4 linked regions of the Homo sapiens genome follow. The protein of the gene in region 2 interacts with the protein of the main gene of each other region in a pairwise test. Each region holds a gene or a part of one and is shown on either strand. Other genes may lie near its edges. The genes, in order: PIAS2, CCNDBP1, ZNF394 and RPL7L1.

Region 1 (7,035 bases), on a different chromosome or scaffold from region 2:
TTTACAACAGCCCATAGAGCCAGTTGCATTAACATCCTTTGCCAAATAATGTTATCACTGGAAATATGAGATATGAGACCTCCTAGAAATTCCTCTGAGAGTCAAGCTTAGGTAGGATGACTTTGTGCTTTGTTTTGTCATTTCTGTAAAATAGCTTCCCTTAAAATGAAGAATATCTGACAATAAGTATAAGGAGTGAAGCAAAGTAGTGAATTCTGAGTTAGAAAAAATCAGTTATGTTTTATCTGTGTGATTGCCTTTTTTAGTATTAGTGTTCCACAATCAATTGAAGTATTTACTAAGATTGAGGGAAAGATGCATCGTATTACTTGCTTGGGTAAACCCTTCCCAAGAAGCTGTTGTCTTCTGTTTAATGCATGAGATGTTGAGTAAGCTGTGACTGGTTTGTTATGAGATAGGCCAAAAGTTTTCTTGTTTTCCTTCTTTGTTGTCTGCACTGTAGAGGTAACACACATTGTGGTATGTGTTCTATTAGAGTATGATTTAGAGCTACCACAGTGTGGTAGCTAGTGGCCACATGTGGCTCTTAAGCACTTGAAATGTGGTTAGTCCAAATTTAGATGTATTGTAAGTGTAAAATATACACCAGATATTGAAGACTTAGTATAAAAAAAATCCCACTGACACTTTAAAAAATGATTATTTTTAAATTACAAAAATTGATTGCATGTTGAGATGAAAAGATAGTTTTGATATATTGGGTTAAATAACTATGTTAATGTAAATTATCATTATTATTATTATTATTTTTGAGACAGTCTTAATATTGCCTAGGCTGGAATATGGTGGTGTGATCACAGTTCACTGTAGCCTCAAATTCCTGGGCTCAAGTGATCCTCTCGCCTCAGTCTCCTGAGTGGCTTGGACCACAGGCACACACACCACCATGGCTGGCTAATTTTTAAATTTTTGTGGAGACGGGGTGTTAGTATGTTGTCCAGTGTGGTCTCGAACTCCTGGGCTCAAGTGATCCTCTTGTGTTGGCCTCCAAAAGCACTGGGATTATAGGTGTGAGCCACTGTTCCTGGCCTAAATTAGTTTTTTTAATGTGACTACTAGGAGGTTTAATGTGTGTCTTCTATTAATTTGTGTTGGACAGCACTGAATTAGAGTATAAAATGGCTTGCCAGGATTACAATTTAATATTCTCTCACTTGTACATTATGAAATATAGAGACATATATAGTACACAAAGTACAGTTATGACAGTGTATATGGATTACTTTGGCATATTTAAATCTGTTTGCATTTTAGTAAACTAGCAAGTATTTATACCAACAAGTATTTAAAAACCATATAGGGTTTTAAACAGTTGCTTCTGGGCCGTCCCTGAGACTTAAAAAGTACAGAGCAACTGCCCCACATTTCCACTATACTGATGAGACAAGCAGGTTGAAAAGGAATCCCAAGTGACTGTGGAGTGTGTAGCACGGGCTGGGTTGGGGGAGTGATGAGGATGGGATGGGACACCAAACCACAGGTAGTTCTCCTGGGTAGGTTTCTGACAGGGCTTTGGTCAGCTCCAGGTGTTCTTCCTCTTTCTTGCTAGATGATGCATGTGTGGTATCTGACCCAAGTGTGATTTGCCTCTGAGTTCAGAATTGACTGGAAATCACTAAGTAGGTGGATTCCTGAGGCTGCAAGGGGTTAAAAATATTCATTAAGTTTTGCTGAAAAAATAGAAGGTGTGATGTGAAGCTGCAACTGCTTATAACCTTTGTTTTACGCCCAAGCACAAGCCAGTAGAGTAGTGTGGAGGAAATGTTGCCCTTTAAGATTGATGACTGCTCATTTCCTTGCTCTTCAAAGGTCTTTTTCTCATTTGGATACCCAGCTGGGAATTTCAGTTGTTTTAGAAGTTTGACTGCTAAATAAGATGTATGTGATTTTTTAGCTTTAATATTTTAAAATATCTTTATTATGTTGTTTGTTTGTTAATGTTTGAATTGGGGTAAAAAATTCATTGCATTTTGGATCACAGTTCTGACTTGATTTTTATGGATTTACTACTCAGCATCAAAAGTTACACATCTAACATTGTGAAAATCTGATTTTTTGTTTGGTTAATTGGCGATAATTCTGTAACAAACATTACATTGTATATTGGGAGGGGTTGGTTTTGAAAAGGAGTATATTCATTGGTGATAGATTTTATAGTCATAAAGCAAATAACTGTTTGCATTAGAGCATAATCAGATAATGAAGTGGTTAGTAGAAACCAATAGACTATAGATTACCAAAATTAAGATCTTGTACAACAAAATATAATTAACACCGTAACTTGAATGTAATTTTTACGGGATTGTCTTATGAATGGTAATGATTCTAAGTGGTATGTGAAATGCTGTTACTAGCACATGCCAATTGATAGAATGCTGGAAAAATCACATTTTACATTATATTTTAGATAGGATTTTTGTATGCTTGAGGGTGACTTGGCTTATGTTTTTTTTTCTTTCCTTTTAGAATATGGTTTCTAGTTTTAGGGTTTCTGAACTACAAGTATTACTAGGCTTTGCTGGACGGAATAAAAGTGGACGCAAGCATGACCTCCTGATGAGGGCGCTGCATTTATTGAAGAGCGGCTGCAGCCCTGCGGTTCAGATTAAAATCCGAGAATTGTATAGACGCCGATATCCACGAACTCTTGAAGGACTTTCTGATTTATCCACAATCAAATCATCGGTTTTCAGTTTGGATGGTGGCTCATCACCTGTAGAACCTGACTTGGCCGTGGCTGGAATCCACTCGTTGCCTTCCACTTCAGTTACACCTCACTCACCATCCTCTCCTGTTGGTTCTGTGCTGCTTCAAGATACTAAGCCCACATTTGAGATGCAGCAGCCATCTCCCCCAATTCCTCCTGTCCATCCTGATGTGCAGTTAAAAAATCTGCCCTTTTATGATGTCCTTGATGTTCTCATCAAGCCCACGAGTTTAGGTAAGTGTTTGAGAATTCAGTTTCTTCTGAACAAGATAGTAAATGAAATGAGAGACCTTCAACTATTGATTAATGATGTGCTGTTAATATAGTGAAATTGAGGCATCAATGCCGAATGTTTGAATATACGGATAAAAATTCGGCAACCATGACTGAAATCTAATAGAAGCTTTATTTCATATCATTTGATCTTTCTTCTTCTCCAATTCTTTTATTGTAAAATACACATAATATAAAATGTATCATCTTGATCATTTTAAAGTGTACAGTTGAGTGGTGTTAAGTATGTTGGTAATGTTGTGCAGCCATCACTGCCATCCATCTCCAGAACTCTTTTCATCTTCTGAAGCTGAAACTCTGTACCCATTAAACAATAGCCTTCCTCTCCTCCTCTCCCACTAGCCCCTGGCAGTTACCATTCTACTTCCACTGTCTATGATTTTGACTATTCCAAGTACCTCATGTCGTTGGAATCATACAGTATTTGTCTTGTGACTGGCTTATTTCACTAAATGTAATGTCCTCAAGGTTCTAGCATGCTGTAGTTTATGTTAGAATTTCTTTCCTTTTAAAGGCTAAATAATACAATAGTATACATTTTTAAAGAAAAATAGTAATCTTTTGCTCACTCCACTACTCATCCCTCAATCTCACTTTCAAGAGGCAACAACCTTAATTATTTTAGCTGTTTCTTCTGGTTTTACTTCTATATTTCTGTGTTATAGGATACCACATTTTGCTTATCCATTGGACACTTGGGTTGCTCCCACATTTTAGCTATTGCGAATAATTCTGTGGACACGGGTATACACGTATCTCTTTGAGACCCTGCTTTTCAATTCTTCTGGCTGTATACCCACAAGTGGAATTGCTGGATCACATAGTCATTCTGTTTTTAGTATTTTGAGGCATCACCATACTGTTTTCCGTGGCAGCTGCATTTTACATTCCCTTCAACAGTGCACAAGGGTTCCAGTTTCTCCACATCCTTAACAACACTTTTATTTTCCTTTTTTTTTTATAGTGGCCATTATAATGGGTGTCAGGTGGTATCTTATTGTAGCTTTGATTTGCATGTCTGTAATGATGGTGATATTGTGCATTTTCATGTGCTTTTTGGCCATTTATGTATCTTTCAAGAAATGTATAGCCAAGTCTCTTGCCCATTTTTGAATTGGTTTGTTTTATTGTTGTTGAGTTTTAGGAGTTCTCTGTATATTCTGGATATAATCCCTTATCAGATATATGAATGTGCAAATATTTTCTCCCACTCTGTGGTTTGCCTTTTTTACTCTGTTGATAGTGTCTTTTGATGTACAACTTAACATTTTTTCATGAAATTCCAATTTGTTTATTTTTTGTTGTTGTTGCCTATGCCTTTGGTGTCATATCCAAGAAATCATTGCTAAACTTCATGCTGTGAAGGTTTTGCCCTGTGTTTTCCTTTAAGAATTTTATAGTTTTAGGTCTTACATTTAAGCCTGATCTCTTTTGAGTTAATTTTCGTATATGGTATTAGGTGAGTGTCCAGCTTTGTTCTTTTGTTTGTGGATATCCAGTTTTTCCCCACCATTTGTTGAAAAGCCTGTCCTTTCCCTCACTGAATGATCTTAGCACCCTTGTCAAAAAGTATTTGACCATGTATGTGAGGTTTTATTTCCAGGTTCTCTGTTCCAAGGTCTCCAACCCTCAGGCCGTGGACTAGCACCAGTCCACAGCCTGTTAGAAACCAGGTCGCACAGCGGGAGGTGAGCAGCAGGAGGTGAGCAGCAGGAATTCGAGCATTACAGCCTGAGCTCCACCTCCTGTCAGATCAGCAGTGGCATTAGATTCTCATAGGTGCAGGAACCCTACTGTGAACTGTGCATGTAAGGGATCTAGATTGCATGCTCCTTACGAGAATCTAATGCCTGATGATCTGAGGTGGAACAGTTTCATCCAGAAACCATTCCCCTGGCCTGTGGGAAAATTGTCTGCCATGAAACTGGTCCTGGCCAAAAAGGTTGTGACTGTTGATTTATTCCATTGGTCTAGATGTCTGTCTTTATGCCAGTATCACAGTTTTGATTACCGTAGCTATGTAATATGTCTTGGAATCAGGAAGAGTGAATTCTCCAGCTTTAATTATTTTGTAAGATTGTTTTGGCTATTTGGGGCCCTTGAGATTCCACGTGAATTTTAGAATGAGTTTTTCTATTTCTGATAAAAAAAAAAAATTGGGATTTTGAGAGGAATTGTAGTGAATCTGTAAATTTGTTTGGGTAGTATTGATATCTTAGCAATATTAAGTCTTTCTTTTCCCACATAGGCTGATGGGGAAAAAAAAAATTAAGTCTTCCAGTACATGAACATGAGCTGTGTTTCTATTTATTTATGTGTTCTTTAATATCTTTCAGCAATGTTTTATAGTTGTTATTGTACAGGTTTTCATTTTCGTGGTTAATTTTGAAATATTTTTTCTTTTTGATACTATTGTAAAAACTACATAATTTCCTTTTCATCATATTTATTATTAGTTTATAAAAATGCAATTGATTTTTGCGTGTTGACTTTGTATTCTGCTACTTTACTGAATTCATTTATTCTAACAGGTTTTTTGTGTGAAATCTTTAAGGTTTACTGTATATAAGAGCCTACCATCTGTGAACAGGAATAATTTTACTTCTTTCTTTTCTGTTTGTATGCCTTTTATTTCTTTTTCTTGCTTAGTTGCTCTGGCTAGAACTTACTCAAGCATTCTTATGGTGTAGAAATCAGATTGCTTCCGTGTGAATGGGAATAGATACAAATCTTATTTATTGATCCTGATTTTGTATTTTGATACTTTTCATATTTTTATAAAGGGACTTACTTTCCATTTAATGTAGCTTTTAAACTGATTTTCTAAGAAATAAACCTTTTATATTTAATTTTATTTCTAAAGTGGCACAGGGAGTTTGACATGCAGTTTTTTAGCTTTTATTTAATGCCCATCAATTGCTTACAATGTGACTAACAAATTTTTGCATTGCTGTGTTATAATTCTTACTGCCTAATGAAGTTATTTACAAATATATTTGAATTTCTTTATGAAATAAATTGGGAAGTAACATTTCATAGTTGATGTGGAAGATTGCTTTCTTTTCTTTCTTGGGAAAACCCTTTTTATTTTCAGTCATGTGAAAACACTTAAACATATCAGTGTGCTTTTTTACCTGTCTTACAGGATTGTACTGCAGCCTGTCTTGGTTAAATCGGAAGGTTTTGAGGGGTAGAGCTAGTTAGTGGGGTTAGTATGGCCTGACTAGTGGCAGGCAATGTGGCTATTTTTTTTTTTTTTTCAATTTTTTGCTTTTTGCTTTATTTATGTTTTAGCAAAACTGGTGATCCAAGCAAGTGGAGTATTGCATTTTATCTCTTTATTACGTTCACTTTGAAATAAGGATTGAGTGTTTGTTCATGTTTTATTATTTGTTTGTACAAAGTCCTATGAGTAGAATTATTGGATCAAGTAAAAAGAACGTTTTAGACTCTTGATAACATATTGCCAAATTATTTTAGTGCCAGTTTAAATTCCACAAGCAAAGTGAGAGAATGCTTGTCATATCTCATTACTTTTTGCCTTTACTGGGTGCTATTGAAAACAGATCTCTGTGATTTTTAGATGAAAACTTGTATCTTGCTTAAATTTTTATTTTTAAAATTAGTAACAGGAGCAAGTATTTTATTTTATTCGATTTTATTTGTTTTTTTTTGGAGGGGGGGGACAGAGTCTTGTTCTGTCGCCCAGGATGGAGGGCGGTGGCGCTGTCTCGGCTCACTGCGGCCTCCACTTCCCCGGGTTCAAGCAGTTCTCCTCTCTCAGCCTCCCGAGTAGCTGAGGCTACAGGCATGTGCCACCACACCGGGCTAATTTTGTATTTTTAGTAGAGATGGGGTTTCGTTACGTTGGCCAGGCTGGTCTTGAACTTCTGACCTGAGGTGATCCACCCGCCTTGGCCTCCCAAAGTGCTGGGATTACAGGTGTGATCCACTGCACCTGGCCAACAAGAGCAAGTATTTTAAATGCTTATTACCCGGTTGTCTGTCTTTTA
Region 2 (7,035 bases):
CTCTCCCTCCCTCTCTTTTCTGTAAAGGGCCAGTTAGTAAATATTTTAGATTTTGTAACCAACTACCCAACTCTGCCCTTATAGAGCAAACACAACTACAGACATTAAAACCAGTGAGTATGGCTGTGTCCCAATACACTTCATTTCCAAAAACAGGCAGTGGGGCCTGACTTGGCCTGAGGACCACAGTTTGCCAGCTCCTGGTCTAAGATATCATGAATATCTTGGGATACAGAGTATCAGGAATAAGTTTTTTCCTGCTGTTTCTTAATGGTTTATTGAGTTGTCAGCCCAATATCTACTATATAGCTAACTCCTCCCTGGTATGTGATGAGTATAGTAGGCCTGCCTTCATACCAGGACTTCAGAAAATGTTTGATGATGCTGTAGAAATATCTGCCCTAGGCCGGGTGCAGTGGCTTACACCTGTAATCTCAGCACTTTGGGAGGCCAAGGGAGGTGGATCACCTGAGGTCAGGAGTTCGAGACCAGTGTGGCCAGTGTGGCAAAACCCCATCTCTACTAAAAATACAAAAAATTAGCTGGGTGTGGTGGCGGGTGCCTGTAATCCCAGCTACTTGGGAGGCTGAGGCAGGAGAACTGCTTGAACCTGGGAGGTGGAGGTTGCAGTGAGCCAAGATTGCGCCATTGCACTCCAGCCTGGGTGACAGAGTGAGACTCTGTCTCAAAAAAAAAAAAAAAAAAAAAAAAAAAGAAAAAGAAAGAAAAGAAAAAGAAAAGAAATATCTGCTCTATTCCACAGCAGAAGGGTTGACCACTTTGATCTAATCTGTTTCCTTTTTCATAGGAAACCCAGAAGTTCTGTGAACAAGTCCATGCTGCCATCAAGGCATTTATTGCAGTGTACTATTTGCTTCCAAAGGATCAGGGTAAGCCACATAAGTGTTGCATTTATCGTGTAGATCTTTGCTAATATTGTGGATTATGTCTTGTGACTTTTACCTTTACCCAACTTGAACATGTAACTTTCTCCCATAAAATACAGTGAAGGATAATTTTGTAATGTAAGTGACTTATATAAACAAGCCATTATTCTAAGATACAGATGCTTTGTTCCTATGACTTCCCATCTCCCCTGCCTTGCCTGACTCATAAGGCTTTTAATTCTCACAGCCTTCTCCCTCTTCAACCCGTTTTAACACCACAGATACTGGCTGGCTCTCAGCCCCATATGCAGGCTCAGGCCATCCTTACTTTCCTCCACCCATGTTATATCTCACCCTATTTCTGAACATCTGCATAGGTTAAATGGCCTCCAGCCCTGCCTGTAGAATCATGCATTGATTATAATCATGCCAAAATTATAACTGAATACATGTCATGGATCTTCAGGGTTACTCAAGTGGCTTAAACTTCAAGTGTTTCATCTACAGTTGTTAAGAGATCACGGTCCTTAATGAATGAATACATGGTGTCACGGAAAGATTTTGTTCCAAATCTCTTTTGAAGAAAACACTAAGGAATGGCAGGAGGGGCAAGAAAATGCCATGGGGATATAAGTAAGACCTGAGTTTTGTGTTAGCATGTAGGTTAAAGCATGTGGGTGTACATTACCTTATAGTTCTGTAATGCTTAGACTCAGGAAAGCAGATGGTGCTTCTGAAAAGAACACCAGGTTGCTTATTCTTTGGGTTTGGCCACAGGGATCACCCTGAGAAAGCTGGTACGGGGCGCCACCCTGGACATCGTGGATGGCATGGCTCAGCTCATGGAAGTACTTTCCGTCACTCCAACTCAGAGGTAGTGATGCCACAGTTTAGGTTACCAGTTATTGGGGTTCCTTGCCTCAGAGGGGAAAAGCTCATTTTAACAGCAAAGTTACTGACAGCTGAGAGTAATGACCAGCAGGAAGAAGCTTTTTAGGAGACAGGAACCTAGGTTATTAATATATCCTTACTGATTTCTTTCCCCAGCCCTGAGAACAATGACCTTATTTCCTACAACAGTGTCTGGGTTGCGTGCCAGCAGATGCCTCAGATACCAAGAGGTGAGTGAAAGTGGGCAGTGGGCCATGTCTGCTGGCCAAAGCAAAGAGACCTCATGTCTAGCTTCCAGCTTTGTAACATGTATTTGAATTTATATAAACAGTCTAGTGAAATATATATATTTTATTAATGAAATTAATAGGTAGGTATTAATACTTTTTGTCATTCTCTAGTTATCATACTTCTAAATTCCACTCCCCCTTGCTGTGGCTGTCTCTTGTTGAACAAGTATGGTTTGTTTTCCTAGTCCTACCCCAAGAGTAGTATTATGGAGCACACTGAAGCAGTTATGAGGTAGAGACAGCTAGGCCAAAACAGTGGTTGTCCAAGAGGACCATGATGATAAACATCATGTGACCATTTTATTTCTTCTTGTGAATAAAATACAAGCTTTTTAAACCCCTATCTAGATACCAGGGGATGTAGTGAGAATTTTTTATTAAACCCGCACCCTTGTCAACCGTCCTTGGCACTCCCATCAATAGGAACAATGTGATTGTTCCTTGCAGTCATAAGAAAATTGTTGGATTTCTCCTCTAATTCTAGTGCTTCTGATTTTTCACTCATAGATAACAAAGCTGCAGCTCTTTTGATGCTGACCAAGAATGTGGATTTTGTGAAGGATGCACATGAAGAAATGGAGCAGGTGAGGGGACCTCCATCATTGGAAGGCAACTCCTTGACTAGTAGATGAGAATTAATTATAAAGAGAGATTTCCTGAGCATTGACCAGATAGGTCCCATTCTCACTACTGTCCTCTGTCTTCCATCTCCCACTGCTTGTTAGTGTTTGATTTAGTACCACTCCTCTGTGTTCCCTTACTGGACAAGGAGAGCGAGAACAGGGTTTATGAAGTGATTCAACTCTGTAGCCCTTAGTGAAGTGGCTGGCTAAGATTTTTGGACAACTAAGACATCGTGGTAAAAGTATAATAATAGGCCTCGCCTTTTTTTTTTTTTTTTTTTTTTGCATTCACATACATCATGGTATGTCTTAGGCTGTGGAAGAATGTGACCCTTACTCTGGCCTCTTGAATGATACTGAGGAGAACAACTCTGACAACCACAATCATGAGGATGATGTGTTGGGGTTTCCCAGCAATCAGGACTTGTATTGGTCAGAGGACGATCAAGAGCTCATAATCCCATGCCTTGCGCTGGTGAGAGCATCCAAAGCCTGCCTGAAGAAAATTCGGATGTTAGTGGCAGAGAATGGGAAGAAGGATCAGGTGGCACAGCTGGATGACATTGTGGATATTTCTGATGAAATCAGCCCTAGGTAAGCGGGATCCCCACTTGAAACATCTGAGCAGCAGCGTTCTGATTTCAATTTGTGTTGTCACCTCAAGGTTTTCACAGTTTTTTTATATTTTGAAATTTTTCAAACCTATAGGAAAGTTTAAAAAGTACCTTCAGTGAACACCCCTATATCCTTCTATTAGATTTGCCTGTTGTTCACATTTTTTCCTATATTGGTTTATTTCTCAAGAGATACTGTTTCATATTTATTCCAGAATGTTTTGAGAGTAAATTGCAGACAGCAATGACATTTCACCCCTAAATACTTCAGTATGTATCTCCTGAAGTACTCTTATTCCTACTCTTATTATCACATCCAAGAAATTTGACATTGAATATAATAGTATTATCTAATATTCAGATTTCCCCAGTTGTCTGTATCTAAAATGTCATATAAATTCAGGGTTCTGTCAAGGTCCCACATTGCATTTAATTGTCATCTCTTTAGTCTCTTGAAATCTAGAACAGTTCCTATCCTTTGTAGTCTTTTTTAATCAACATTTTAAAAAGAAACCAGGACAGTTGTCTTGTAAAATATCCAACAACCTGGATTCACGTGATTGTTAGTTCTCATTTTTGCAAGAATATCATATAATTAAGTGTTTTGTACATCTCATTTTATCATATTAGGGAGGCACATGATGTTGGTTTGCCTCATTATTGGTGGTACTAAATTTGATCACTTAAAGTGGTGCTCACTTTAGTAAAGGTATATTTTACTCTAATTTTAGCTTCCACTGATGAAGGCTGCCTGCCTATATTAGTTATTAAACTGATGGTTTCACATCCTCACATTTTTGACTGAATTGATCATGCACCCTACTATGAACCAAGGGAATTTCCCCCCCAGCTTCCTAGTGAAATGGGGTATGGTTGTTTCAATAAAGACTGGTTGAACTCATTCTGTATTGGTTGCCCAGTTGCCCAATTTTAAAAACTGACAGGCATTTCTGGGACAGTTTCTCACTGTTGACATCCATAGTTGTGTACTAGAAACAACCTGGCTGCGTTTTTTTGTTAATGATTACTTTTGTTTTCTGCTCTTAGTGTGGATGATTTGGCTCTGAGCATATATCCACCTATGTGTCACCTGACCGTGCGAATCAATGTAAGTACTGGCTTTGAGGGAATAGCTACAGAACAAATGGGCAGAATTTCACTAATCACTAGTATTTCCTGTAAGCTATAGGGTACATATTTATTAGTCACATTTGGATGGAAGTACAACAGTAATGTCACAGTTCTTGCATGCGTTTGGGGTTGATAAATATTCACTGAAGTTGAATTATAATAGCCATGAGCTTTGGTAGTTCTCTCTTCCATAATCACCTGGGTAATCATTCAGAAAAGCCCAAAGGCCTTAGAAAATGATGCTTTAAGGCTGGGCGCGGTAGCTCACACCTGTAATCCCAGCACTCCAGGAGGCGGAGGTCAGGAGTTGAGACCAGCCTGGCCAACATGGCGAAACCTTGTCTCTACTAAGAATACAAAAATTAGCCGGGCATCATGCACCTATAATCCCAGCTACTTGGAAGGCTTAAGCAGGAGAATCGCTTGAAGCCGGGAAGTGGAGGTTGCAGTGAGCCGACATCGCGCCACTGCACTCCAGCCTGAGCAACAGAGCAAGACTCTGTCTCAAAAAAAAAAAAAAAAAAAAAAAAAAAAAAAAAGCTTCTTTGAAAAGAAAGTCTTAATTACACGGTAATTTAGGAACTTCTCAACTTGAAGTCACAAGTTTCTAATTTCTAGACTAGGCAGCAATTAGATTGAACTTCAGCTGTTCATGAAGTAGCTGGCTGAGGTCACATGTTTCTGATTTCTAGACAAGGCAGAAATAAGTGTTCCAGAAACATACTCTGTTCTAATACAAACACATTGTGTGATTTAACTATGGAGAGTCAACTTTCTTATAAAAATCTGATTTTATTGTATTCTTTGAGGTTCTGTGCCCTTTACTAGAGAGAGTTCTGTTCTCTCTAATGTTATTGGAAAGAGCAGTAAAACTGCCAAATGGCTTATATTTTACAATTGAATGTATCAATTCTAGTAATATTTGATAAATTGGATAATGGAAATTAGATTCATCAGATGTGTCTTCATGATGTATAAACACCTTGAAGTAGAATAGGATCCTTTTGGGCATTAACATTTTTTTGGCATTAACTTTTAAAAAATTGACTTCCTAAGAAATAAACATTTTTAGCAATATGCCTAGTCAGCTATCCCAAACATAGTATCTGCTCTAGCAATTTTAAAATGTGTACTGCATATGCATCTTATATGTATTGATATTTTATATTAAACGTCTCCATCTTATCCTTATATTGGTGTTCTTAAAATTCTTAATGCGCTTTTTTTTTTTTTTTTTTTTTTTTTTTTTTAAAGGAACCTTAGTCATTTCTGCTTTATATTTTGAGCTATCAGCATTTGGGACCAATTCAGGTTACATTTTCCTTTTTCTGTCCTTTTTTAAATTGAAAATATTTTAGATCTAAAAAATCTTATTAAAATGTTATAGCAATAGTATTAATAAGATCTTGCTAAATAGAAAAGAACCCGTAATCCTGCCACCCTAACCTAATCAGCATTTTAAATTTTGCATACTTCCTTCAGGTCCTTTTTCTAAATAATTTTTTTATTACTTGGGTCTTTAAAAATATTTGAACTCACCTTTTTATGGTAGGGCTCAGGGTGAATAACTTCTGTGTTTCTTTTCTAGTCTGCGAAACTTGTATCTGTTTTAAAGAAGGCACTTGAAATTACAAAGTAAGTATGAAGACTTCTCAGATAGCTTTTTGTGAGTAAAACGGAACTGCTGTCCAGACGTTCTCAACTCCCTAGCTCCCATTTCAAGGAGTGGGAAAGGGTGGGTGTGGGATTTTCTTTCAGCTTCAGTTGTGGGGCAGCTGAGATTCTGCAAAGAAGCTTCCCTTTAAAAAAATTTTAGTTTTCCCTGTGCTCCCTCCTGAGGATAGGTTTTCCCTTGACATCCTAATAAGTTTAACTTACTTCTTTCCTATTCTATTCACAGAGCAAGTCATGTGACCCCTCAGCCAGAAGATAGTTGGATCCCTTTACTTATTAATGCCATTGATCATTGCATGAATAGAATCAAGGAGCTCACTCAGAGTGAACTTGAATTATGACTTTTCAGGCTCATTTGTACTCTCTTCCCCTCTCATCGTCATGGTCAGGCTCTGATACCTGCTTTTAAAATGGAGCTAGAATGCTTGCTGGATTGAAAGGGAGTGCCTATCTATATTTAGCAAGAGACACTATTACCAAAGATTGTTGGTTAGGCCAGATTGACACCTATTTATAAACCATATGCGTATATTTTTCTGTGCTATATATGAAAAATAATTGCATGATTTCTCATTCCTGAGTCATTTCTCAGAGATTCCTAGGAAAGCTGCCTTATTCTCTTTTTGCAGTAAAGTATGTTGTTTTCATTGTAAAGATGTTGATGGTCTCAATAAAATGCTAACTTGCCAGTGATTAAATGAGTGCCCTTCCAAAGTTTCTTTTTACCAGAAATACAGTGGATTGAGACTAGAACATTGCTTTCATTTGGGTTTGTAGGTTTAAAAATCTGATTCTAATCAGAAGTATATTTAGAACAAAACACTTTATTTATAAAAGATGACTCCAAAATTCATCTTAGTATTTCACCATGTTATATATTATTATCAGCAAGTCCTTCTGAATATTATCACAGATTACTCCATGT
Region 3 (4,577 bases), on a different chromosome or scaffold from region 2:
CCCAGCTACTCGGGAGGCTGAGGCGGGAGAATGGCGTGAACCTGAACCTGGGAGGCGGAGGTTGCAGTGAGCCGAGATCGTGCCACTGCACTCCAGCACTCCAGCCTGGGTGACAGAGCAAGACTCCGTCTCAAAAAAAAAAGAAAAAACATTTTATATATATATATACATATATATATATATATATACACACACACACACACACACACACACACACACACACGTATGTATGTATATACATATATATACACATATATATATAGGCTTTGGTACTATACACAATTTCAGGCATCACTGGGGGACTTGGAACGTGTCCCCACAGAGAAGAGGGAACAACTGTATGTTCATCTTGCTCTCCAAAGAGCCCATAACTAATGTATATGCCACCAGCAATACTAATAATTTTTCTTTCTCCATATTCTTGTCAACATTTGCTGTTGGCTGGGTACGGTGGCTCACACCTGTAATCCTAGCACTTTGGGAGGCCCAGATGGGAGGATTGTTTGAGGTCAGGAGCTCAAGACCAGCCTGGGCAACATAGCGAGACCCCATCTCTTTAAAAAAAAAAATTAATAAAAAAAATAGTAATACATTTTGGCCGGGCGTGATAGCTCAGGCCTGTAAATCTCAGCACTTTGGGAGGCCGAGGTGGGCAGATCATGAGGTCAGGAGTTCAAGACCAGCTTGGCCAACATAGTGAAACACCGTCTCTACTAGAAATACCAAAAATTAGCCGGACCTCTGATGCCTGATGTGCAGGGGCCCTGGCACCCTGCTCACCCACCCATCCCTTCTGCTGCCCTTTGCCTGCTCTGGCCACACTGCCTTGCTGCTCCAAAATATGCCAGGCCCCGCTGCCTCCTGGTCTTTGTGCTATGTGACCGCTCTGCCTGGAATATTCTACTCTACTCTGTAGGAAGCAAAGTTTCAGGGCTTTGCTCAAATTGCTCCCTTGTGCCGGGTGTGGTGGCTCATACCTGTAATCCCAGCACTTTGGGAGACCGAGGTAGCTCACACCTATAACCCTAGCACTTTGGGAGGCCGAGGCAGGTGAATCACTTGAGGTCAGGAGTTCGAGACCAGCCTGGCCAACATGGTAAAACCCCGTCTACTAAAACACCTACTAAAATACCTACTATAATACCTACTAAAATACCTACTATAATACCTACTAAAATACCTACTATAATACCTACTAAAATACCTACTAAAAATACAAAAATTAGCCAGGCCAGTTAATGGGCACCTGTAATTACAGCTACTCAGAAGGCTGAGGCAGGAGAATCACTTGAACCTGGGAGGTGGAGGTTGCAGTGAGCCGAGATCACGCCATTGCACTCCAACCTGGGTGACAGAGTGAGACTCTGTCTCAAAAAGATAAAATAAATAGGCTGGGTGCAGTGGCTCATGCCAGTAATCCCAACACTTTGGGAGGCCAAGGCAGGTGGATCACCTGAGGTCAGGAGTTTGAGACCAGCCTGACCAACATGGTGAAACCCCATCTCTACTAAAAATACAAAAATTAGCCGGGTGTGGTGGCACGTTGCCTGTAATCCCAGCTACTCTCAAGGCTGAGGCAGGGGAATTGCTTGAACCTGGGGGGCAGAGGTTGCAGTGAGCTGAGATCACTCCACTGCACTCCAGCCTTGGCAACAAGAGCGAAACTCCATCTCAAAAAAATAAAATAGCTGGGTGTGGTGGCTCACGCCTGTAATCGCAACACTTTGCAAGGCCGAGGGGGGTGGATAACAAGGTCAGAGGAGTTCGAGACCATCCTGGCCAAGATGGTGAAACCTCGTCCCCACTAAAAATACAAAAAAATTAGCCGGGTGTGGTGGTGGGTGCCTGTAATCCCAGCTACTTGGGAGGCTGAGGCAGGAGAATCACTTGAACCTGGGAGGCAGAGGTTGCAGTGAGCTGAGATCATGCCACTGCACTCCAGCCTAGGCAACAGAGCAAGACTCCATCTCAAAAATAAAATAAGATACGATAAAATAAAATATAGGCTGGGTGCTGTGGCTCACGCCTGTAATCCCAGAAGTCTGGGAGGCCGAGGCAGGCGGATCACGAGGTCAGGAGTTCAAGACCAGCCTGGCCAATATGGTGAAACACTGTCTCTACTAAAACTAGCAAAATTAGCACCTGTAATCCCTGCTACTTGGGAGGCTGAGGCAGGAGAATCACTTGAACCCAGGTGGCAGAGGTTGCAGTGAGCCGAGATCATGCCACTGCACTCCAGCCTGGGCAACAGAGTGAGACTCCATCTCAAAATAAATAAATAGCAACAGAGTAATACTCTGTCTCAAAATAAATAAATAGGGAGGCTGAGGCGAGCGGATCATGAGGTCAAGAGATAGAGACCATCCTGGCCAACATGGTGAAACCCCATCTCTAATAAAAATACAAAAATTAGCTGGGTGTGGTGGCGTGCACTTGTAATGCCAGCTACTTGGGAGGCTGAGGTAGGATAATCAGTTGAACTCGGGAGGCAGAGGTTGCAGTGAACTGAGATCGGACCACTGCACTCCAGCCTGGTGACAAAGCAAGACACCGTCTCAAAAAATAAATTAATTAATTAAAAAGTAAAAGGGGTTTGAGGGTTTAACATTCTGCCAGCACTTGCTTATTTCTGTGTTGCACAGGGATGCACTGGCAGGAATTTGTATTTTCACGTTTCAGGTTTGGAAAGCAGAGTGGAGAACAAAGAGTTGATTCCAATGCAACAAATTTTAGAAGAAGCGGAGCCACAGGGGCAACTACAAGAAGCGTTCCAGGGGAAGCGCCCCCTGTTTTCTAAGTGTGGCAGTACCCATGAGGACAGGGTGGAAAAGCAGTCCGGAGACCCCTTGCCCCTGAAACTTGAAAATTCTCCTGAAGCAGAAGGACTCAACAGCATCTCAGATGTCAATAAGAATGGTTCCATAGAAGGGGAAGACTCTAAAAATAATGAATTGCAGAACAGTGCCAGGTGTTCCAACCTTGTTCTATGTCAGCACATCCCGAAAGCAGAGAGGCCCACTGACAGTGAGGAACACGGGAACAAGTGCAAGCAAAGTTTCCACATGGTGACGTGGCACGTGCTGAAACCTCACAAGTCTGACAGTGGAGACAGTTTCCATCATTCCAGCCTTTTTGAGACCCAGAGGCAGCTCCATGAAGAAAGACCTTATAAATGTGGTAACTGTGGGAAGAGTTTCAAACAACGCTCTGACCTCTTTAGACACCAGAGAATCCACACAGGTGAGAAACCCTATGGCTGCCAAGAATGTGGGAAAAGCTTCAGCCAGAGTGCTGCCCTGACCAAGCACCAGAGGACACACACAGGCGAGAAGCCGTACACCTGTCTGAAATGTGGGGAGCGCTTCAGGCAGAATTCACACCTAAATCGTCATCAAAGTACCCACAGTAGAGACAAACATTTTAAATGTGAGGAATGCGGGGAAACCTGTCATATTTCCAACCTTTTTAGACATCAGAGACTACATAAAGGGGAAAGACCCTATAAGTGTGAAGAATGCGAGAAGAGCTTCAAACAGCGCTCTGACCTCTTTAAACACCACAGAATCCACACTGGGGAGAAGCCCTATGGATGTTCCGTCTGTGGGAAACGCTTCAATCAGAGTGCAACCCTCATTAAACACCAGAGAATTCACACTGGGGAAAAGCCTTACAAATGTCTTGAATGTGGGGAAAGATTTAGACAAAGTACACACCTTATCCGACACCAAAGAATTCATCAAAATAAAGTGCTGTCGGCTGGGCGTGGTGGCTCACGCCTATAATCCCAGCACTTTGGGAGGCCAAGGCAGGCAGATCATTTGAGATCAGGAGTTTGAAACCAGCCTGGCCAACATGGTAAAATCCTGTCTCTACTAAAAATACAAAAATGAGCCGGGCATGGTGGTGCATGCCTGTAAGCCCAGCTATTCGGGAGGCTGAGGTAGGAGAATCACTTGAACCCAGGAGGCGGAAGTTGCAGTGAGCTGAGATCATGCCACTGCACTCCAGCCTGGGCAACAGAGCGAGACTCCATCTCAAAAAAGAAATAAAGTGCTGTCATTTTGATATGTTTCTATGTGACTTGGCCTGTTTCTTTTCTTGTCCAGAACCACATTCCTTGCCATTTGGAGTATATCAGTCAATTATGGATCTTCCTTGAGTATCTCCTACAAGATAGGTTCAATCTGTCCTGAGCCTCATTACAGACTGATAGTTTCAGTGAGTGAGGAATGAGGAAGTAGGGGGCCTTCTGAAATGTGAGCTGATGCCAGGTAAGAGACTTCTGATGATAAGAGCCAGGCTGACATGTAACGGGGTTCTGTCCTTGTTATCTGCGCTCTACCTTTATGTATTATTTTTGAGACTGGGTCTCGTCGTAGCCCTCCAGCGGGAGCCCAGTGGTGTGATCGTGGTTCACTGTGGCCTCAACCTCCTGGGCTCAAGTGATCCTCTTGCCTTAACCTCCTGAGTAGCTGGGACCACAGGCACACACCACCACACCCAGCTTTTTTTTTTTTTTAAGAGATAGGGTCTTGCTATGTTGCCCAGGCTGGTCTCAACCTCCTGGGCTCAAGGAA
Region 4 (7,035 bases), on a different chromosome or scaffold from region 2:
AAAAATAAGTGGGGTCTTTGGCCAGGTGTGGTAGCTCATGCCTGTTATCCCAGCACTTTGGGAGGCTGAGGCAGGTGGATCTCCTGAAGTCAGGAGTTTGAGACCAAGCTGGCCAACAAGGTGACCCTGTCTCTACTAAAAATACAAAAATTAGCCGGGTGTGGTGGCGCATGCCTGTAATCCCAGCTACTTGGGAGGCTGAGGCAGGAAAATGGCTTGAACTCAGGTGGCAGAGGTTGCAGTGAGCCGAGATCATATCACTGCACTCCAGCCTGGGCGACAGAGCGAGACCCCATCTCAGAAAAAAAAAAGAACAAGGAGTGAGGTCTTGTGTTACCCAGGCTAGAGTGCAGTGGCAGGATCATAGCTCATTGCAGCCTTGAATTCCTGGGTTCAAGAGAACCTCCCGCCTCAGCCTCCTAAGTAGCTGGGACTACAGGGTGAGCTACTGTATGTGCTCCTCCAAAGTATTTTCCATCTGGGGTTGGTTGAATCACAGATGCAGAGCACCAAGTGTATATGGTTTATGTCTTCATTTAGCAAATATTTAACACCTGCAGGCAAATGCTGGCGTGGAGTTTAAGGAAACTTGTTAGTAAACACTGATTAATATGTAAACTAATTTTTTGTTCGTTATTTTTCCCAATAATTCCCAAGTTTCCTCAACTCCACCTTTACTTTGGTTTCTCATTTTTCCTTTATATGAAAATAGAGAATGTTGCTTTGCTTCGCATTGTGGAACACGGGGAAATAAGCTATATCAGTTGTCACTTATGAATTACTGTTCTAAAAGTAAAAATGTATGGAGGCACAAGATGATGATGATGGTCTGTCTTCTCTGTAGCAGAAGAAAGGAAAAGGGCTCAGGTTTAAGCGACTGGAATCATTCCTACATGATTCCTGGCGGCAGAAACGTGACAAGGTGCGTCTCAGACGACTAGAAGTGAAACCTCATGCCTTGGAATTGCCAGATAAACATTCCTTGGCCTTTGTTGTACGCATCGAAAGGTAAGGAACTGGTGTCTTTCTAATTGCATGAGGCTGGGGCAAAGTGTTGCTTAAGCTTTAGACCCCTTTCTAGGGAGATAATATGCCCCAAGCCACTCAGGCAAATTGTGCTAGGATGTCAGGGTTGAGCACAATTTAGTCTGCAATATTTGGAAGACCTTAGACAGATAGGCTTGAAAATAAGTGCTATGAGGGTAAAGTGCTCACTAGGGAGAGGGGTTGAGGACACCCTCTCTAAAGCAGGAACTTCAACCTGAGACCTGAAAGATGTGAAAGGCGTTCACCAGTGTTGGGAGATTTTTCAGGCATACGTGCTGAAGTCCTGAGGTAGGGAAAGCAAGGCATCATTCTAGGAACTGAAACAAGGCTGAGTGGATGAAGCATATTCAGTGAAGGGGAGACATTTTTCCTCATTTAGTGGAACTTTCCCAACCCCCTGCCCACCCCATGTACAACTCTACTTCTTGCTGTTTCCCCTACCCAATCACCCAAACCAGAAACCTGTGGATTTTGCATGTTTATGAGCTCTGTCCTTTGTAGCCCTCTACCACTGCTCATATTTTTCCTGAACTATTGTATTAACCTTCCTCCTGGATTTCCTTGCCTCTAGTGTCATACTGTGATCTGTCCCATACACTGCCCTTGGTGATTGTCAGAAAGAAATCTGGTCTGGTCTCTTCTGCTTAAAATCTTCAGTAGCTTTTACTGCCCATAGAAGCACATCCAGCTTCCTTAGCTGGACATGTGTAGACCTACATACCACCACTCCGCCTACCCCTGAAACACACACAAGTTCAATTTCCATAGCATTCCAGGCACTGCTCCACATTATGAAAAGGATCTGTTTTCATAACCGCCTCCCACTAAACTGAGCTCTTTAAGGCATAGTCTCTGTGTCTTATTCCAGATTACCCAGTGTAGTGACCTCGCATGTTGTGCTTGCTGGACTGACATAAACTGGAGGGAGTCTGTCTGACTTCTGTTGCTGTTCATTTCAGGATTGACGGCGTGAGTTTACTGGTGCAGAGAACCATTGCAAGACTTCGCCTAAAGAAAATTTTTAGTGGTGTCTTTGTAAAAGTCACCCCCCAGAATCTAAAAATGCTGCGTATAGTGGAACCTTATGTGACCTGGGGGTAAGTAAGGTTTTCCATGTGAATTCACATTAGATTTCTATTTGAGTGTGTCAGGGTGCACCGGGTATTGCTTTCCAGGGCTCATGTTGCTGTAGAAGGGACATTTTGCTGTGACCACAGTCAACCTGAAATCAGTGGGTAGCTGTAATAACCATGGGACACAGGGTAGGGAGGGGTCTGAACAATACCATAGTAGGGCTGGTTCAGTCATAGGCTAAGGCTGGGTCAAGGAAAGCTTGGTTCTTGAAAGTCTTAAAGCAGAGCTAAAGGCAGTGCATGTGTAAGAGTAGTATTCCTGGCCGGACACACTGGCTCATGCCTGTAATCCCAACACTTTGGGAGGCCGAGGCGGGTGGATCACACGGTCAGGAGTGGATCACAGGGTCAGGAGATTGAGACCATCCTGGCCAACATGGTGAAACCCCTGTCTCTACTAAAATACAAAAAAAATTAGCCAGGCATGGTGATGTGTGCCTGTATTCCCAGCTACTTGGGAGGCTGAGGCAGGAGAATCGCTTGAATCCATGAGGCAGAGGTTGCAGTGAGCTGAGATTGTGCCACTGCAATCCACTCTGTCTCAAAAAAAAAAAAAAAGGCCAGACACGGTGGATCACGAGGTCGGGAGATCGAGACCATCCTGGCTAACATGGTGAAACCCCGTCTCTACTAAAAATACAAAAAAAATTAGCCTGGCACCTGTAGTCCCAGCTACTTGGGAGGCTGAGGCAGGAGAATGGCATGAACCTGGGAGGCGGAGCTTGCAGTGAGTCGAGATCGTGCCACTGCACTCCAGCCTGGGAGACTGAGCAAGACTCCGTCTCAAAAAAAAAAAAAGAGTAGTATTCCTCAAACATTGAAACCCAACAAAAACTTGGATTTTATTTCCAACTCTTGCACCATCTTGAGTAGAGGGTCACCTAAGGCCAGAGTCGTAGCCCCTAAGGTAAGCTAGGACATGGTTTCTGTTTTGTTTTTGTTGGCAATATTTTCCCTGGTGAACATTTACATCCATAAATTTAAATTTCTAATTATGTAAGTGGGGTCACTTCAGTTCTTTATCAGGAGTATTTCCAAGCATTTCAGCTGGAATGTGATTGCAGAACACTTGCTCGTTGGGAGAAGTGAGTGTGTGGGAGAACCTCTCCAACCTCTCAGCCAGGCTGCAGGACTGGTATGTAGTGTGCCAGGTGCTGGTGAAAACCGTGCTTTATTTTCCTACATAGATTTCCAAATCTGAAGTCTGTCCGAGAACTCATTTTGAAACGTGGACAAGCCAAGGTCAAGAATAAGACCATCCCTCTGACAGACAATACAGTGATTGAGGAGCACCTGGGTGAGTGCTACAGCTTAGGGATCAGCTGGGGCAGAAAGCCAGGGTCTTTGAAGCTTTGATGTGAGATTCAGGTTGTATTCTTCTTGGGGCCCCAAGAGTCTGCCAGAGTGGCCAGCTTAGTATATGCTGGATACATGTTAAATAAAGGAATCTGTGCTTTTGTGTTTCTTAGGGAAGTTTGGCGTCATTTGCTTGGAAGACCTCATTCATGAAATTGCCTTCCCAGGGAAGCATTTCCAGGAGATCTCATGGTTCTTGTGCCCTTTCCACCTCTCAGTGGCCCGTCATGCTACCAAAAATAGAGTGGGCTTCCTCAAGGAGATGGGCACACCTGGCTATCGGGGTGAACGCATCAATCAGCTCATCCGTCAGCTGAACTAGACCCAGGTGAGGCAGGGCTGAAAACTGCCCTTGGGCTGACTTTTGATAGGCCATGCCTTGCCACTTTACAAGTTCTTTTTGCATTTACTAGTATTTAAGAGTAACCTTGAGATTGGGAGGAATAGAGGAGGCTGGTACAAATAGATGGAGACCTGCTGGGATCAGTGAATGCCTGATTAGGACATGGGGCTATGCATAGCCTAAGAGTTATAGGCTTAAAGATGTCGAGTAACTAAAAACTGTATTGCTGGCCGGGCGCGGTGGCTCACGCCTGTAATCCCAGCACTTTGGGAGGCCAAGGCGGGCAGACCATGAGGTCAGGAGATTGAGACCATCCTGGCCAACATGGTGAAACCCTGTCTCTACTAAAAATACAAAAATGAGCTGGGTGTGGTGGCGCGTGCCTGTAGTCCCAGCTACTCGAGAGGCTAAGGCAGGAAAATCGCTTGAACCCAGGAGGCAGAGATTGCAGTGAGCCAAGATTGCACCAGTGCACTCCAGCTGGGCGACAGAGCGAGACTCCATCTCGGAAAAAAAAAAAAAAAAACTATTGCTGCAGTCATTCAGATGGAAATGAGGAAAGAATAATATTAATAACTGATTTCAAAAAGGACTTGAAGATGTGAATCATCTATTTTGCTGAAGAAATCTTAACTCTTTGAAATTACTTTTTATTGCTGTTGTCATACTCTTAGGTGCCAAACTGCGGTAAATTTTTTATCAGTGAAGTGGAAGCATGTGTTTTGTTTTGGAAATTTTTATCAAGTATCTTCAGAGAAGATTATTTCCTGCTTTATCTTCAGAAACTGGAAAGGGTCAAAGAAAAGACAGTAGCTGGCCGGTCGTGGTGGCTCATGCCTGTAATCCCAACACTTAGGGAGGCTGAGGTGGGCAGATCACCTGAGGTTGGGAGTTCGAGACCAGCCTGACCAACATGGAGAAATGCCATCTCTACTAAAAATACAAAAATTAGCCGGGCATGGTGGCACGTGCCTGTAATCCCAGCTACTCAGGAGGCTGAGGCAGGAGAATCGCTTGAACCTGGGAGGTGGAAGTTGCAGTGAGCTGAGATCACGCCATTGCACTCCAGCCTGGGCAACAAGCGAAACTCTGTCTCAAAAAAAAAGAAAAGACAGTAGCATATGTTCATGTCAAGCACCTCTCATCACAGTCGAGTTCCAAGGAAAAATTCCAGTGTTTTCTGCATTGGGTGCTGTGTCATCTGAAATCGGCACATTCCATGGAGGAAGGAGTCCTGCTTTGTTGCATGTATCCTAGGGTTTAATGTTGGTAAATGAGTCACTCTAGCATTTGTAGAAGGCTCCCTGAGACTCCTGCAGCAGTCGACCAAGCCCAAGGACATAATTGAATCTGGAGAGTCCTGGGGCCTTGTTTTGAAAAAGACTTGAAATACACATAGGAAGAAAGGCATAAAAATAAATGTTCACTTGTCTCTGCTGTGAGTATGTGTTCCAACTTTTCAGTGATGGCTTTGAGAATTCTCAAACTTGACTGGCTCTAAGTGTATCTGGTGGCTTTTGTATCGTAACCTGAAACTGGCTTAGTACTTTTTCCTAAAAGCTCAGGATTTGAGAATGAGGACCCCTTCGCCAGGAAAACATGTATACACTCAAAATTTTGCTTGCAGTTCTAGGGTGTTTAGACCCTTCTCAGATACCTGTGCATCTTATGGGTTTTGTTTTTCTCTTTGAGACAGTCTCACCCTGTTGCCCAGGCTGGAGCGCAGTGGCATGATCTCAGCTCATTGCAGCCTCCACCTCCTGGGTTCAAGTGATTCTGCCTCAGCCCCTTGATCAGCTGGGATTACATGCATGTACCACCACACCCAGCTAATTCTTGTATTTTTAGTAGAGATGGAGACAGAGTTTCACCATGTAGGCCAGGCTAGTCTCAAACTCCTGACCTCAAGTGATCCACAAGCCTGGGCCTCCCAAAGTGCTGGGATTACAGGCATGAGCAACTGCGCCCAGCTCTTGTGTACCTTATGTGAGGAAGTCCTGCTCAATCAGGATCGGTCACGCAGGCCCTGATCTTGCTACTCTGGTTCCATGTCCTATGGAAGACCAAAGTTTACCAAGATAGATTTTTCCCTTCATAGTGGCAGATAGTGTTAACCCCTGCACCATCTGTAACTCAGAAATCCCCACCATTTCTTCCCCTGGGCTTCAGAATAGAATTGCCTGGTTTCTCTGATGATCAGCATGGTTCCTTAAAACCCAAATCAGCAAGGAATGAACAATTTTGTTTGGCATGGATGAAATTAGCACTGTTTGGCTCGTTAGGCCCCAGGCAGGCAGGCACCTTAATTTTTTCCTTGCATATTCTAGTCTTCAGAAGCATTGCCTTTTGTCCTACTGGTAGTGACATAGACCAATAACAGGGCATCTGGGGATTTTAATCCTGAAAACAGTGAGTCTGATACTGCTTGTGTTTTTCATCAGTGTCCACCCCAAGTGGGTCTTCCTGCTATTCTCTTCACTTAGTTGCCCCTCACTTGCCATCTGAGCAATTGGCAAGGATGTGCCAGGCCTAGGTTAAACTTGGAAACATGCTTGACCATTCTATTCCCTGGTCCTTTAAGATCAGTTTGGCTGCAATTTTGGCTCCTTGGACCCTCAAGCATAGCTGGTAAATCAAGTTAGAGATGTAACTGCCTTAAAACATGCCAGCTTAGGCTGGGCACGGTGGCTCACACCTGTAATCTCAACACTTCAGGAGGCTGAGGCAGGCAGATCACTTGAGGTCAGGAGTTCGAGACCAGCCTGACCAACATGGAGAAATTCTGTCCCTACTGAAAATACAAAATTAGCCGGATGTGGTGGTGCATGCCTGTAATCCCAGCTACTTGGGAGGCTGAGGCAAGAGAATTGCTTGAACCCAGGGAGGCAGAGGTTGCAGTGAGCCGAGATCACACCATTGCACTCCACCTTGGGCAACAAAAGCAAAACTCTGTCTCAAAAAAAAAAAAAAAAAAAGTGCCAGCGTATGAGGTAATTAGATTGGTTCTCTCCAGAGGTAACCTGCCAAGAAGAGATGCTATAGATGTTACTCCTATACTGTAAAACATTGTGAAATCAGATTACTTTAAAATGATGTATTACAAAGTTATGCAAAAAAGCAGTTGTGACTATGGAAGCCCAAGGCTTATATCCCAGC

The links.
Region 1: the proteins of CCNDBP1 (region 2) and PIAS2 interact in binary tests that used the Homo sapiens proteins (3 or more experiments, as listed by UniProt).
Region 3: the proteins of CCNDBP1 (region 2) and ZNF394 interact in binary tests that used the Homo sapiens proteins (3 or more experiments, as listed by UniProt).
Region 4: the proteins of CCNDBP1 (region 2) and RPL7L1 interact in binary tests that used the Homo sapiens proteins (3 or more experiments, as listed by UniProt).

Annotation. Positions count from the first base shown.
Region 1 is NC_000018.10:46,886,507-46,893,541, reverse strand, and holds part of PIAS2 (E3 SUMO-protein ligase PIAS2), read left to right. Parts: intron 1-10; exon of another isoform or gene 11-111; intron 112-2,487; coding exon 2,488-2,962; intron 2,963-7,035. UniProt on the Homo sapiens protein: Functions as an E3-type small ubiquitin-like modifier (SUMO) ligase, stabilizing the interaction between UBE2I and the substrate, and as a SUMO-tethering factor.
Region 2 is NC_000015.10:43,188,391-43,195,425, forward strand, and holds part of CCNDBP1 (cyclin-D1-binding protein 1), read left to right. Parts: intron 1-803; exon of another isoform or gene 804-808; coding exon 809-890; intron 891-1,664; coding exon 1,665-1,761; intron 1,762-1,934; coding exon 1,935-2,008; intron 2,009-2,575; coding exon 2,576-2,652; intron 2,653-3,004; coding exon 3,005-3,285; intron 3,286-4,352; coding exon 4,353-4,413; intron 4,414-6,024; coding exon 6,025-6,071; intron 6,072-6,336; coding exon 6,337-6,451; 3' UTR 6,452-7,035. UniProt on the Homo sapiens protein: May negatively regulate cell cycle progression. May act at least in part via inhibition of the cyclin-D1/CDK4 complex, thereby preventing phosphorylation of RB1 and blocking E2F-dependent transcription.
Region 3 is NC_000007.14:99,492,734-99,497,310, reverse strand, and holds the end of ZNF394 (zinc finger protein 394), read left to right. Parts: intron 1-2,679; coding exon 2,680-3,782; 3' UTR 3,783-4,071; downstream 4,072-4,577. UniProt on the Homo sapiens protein: May be involved in transcriptional regulation.
Region 4 is NC_000006.12:42,882,607-42,889,641, forward strand, and holds part of RPL7L1 (ribosomal protein uL30-like), read left to right. Parts: intron 1-844; coding exon 845-1,008; intron 1,009-2,006; coding exon 2,007-2,144; intron 2,145-3,367; coding exon 3,368-3,477; intron 3,478-3,649; coding exon 3,650-3,858; 3' UTR 3,859-7,035.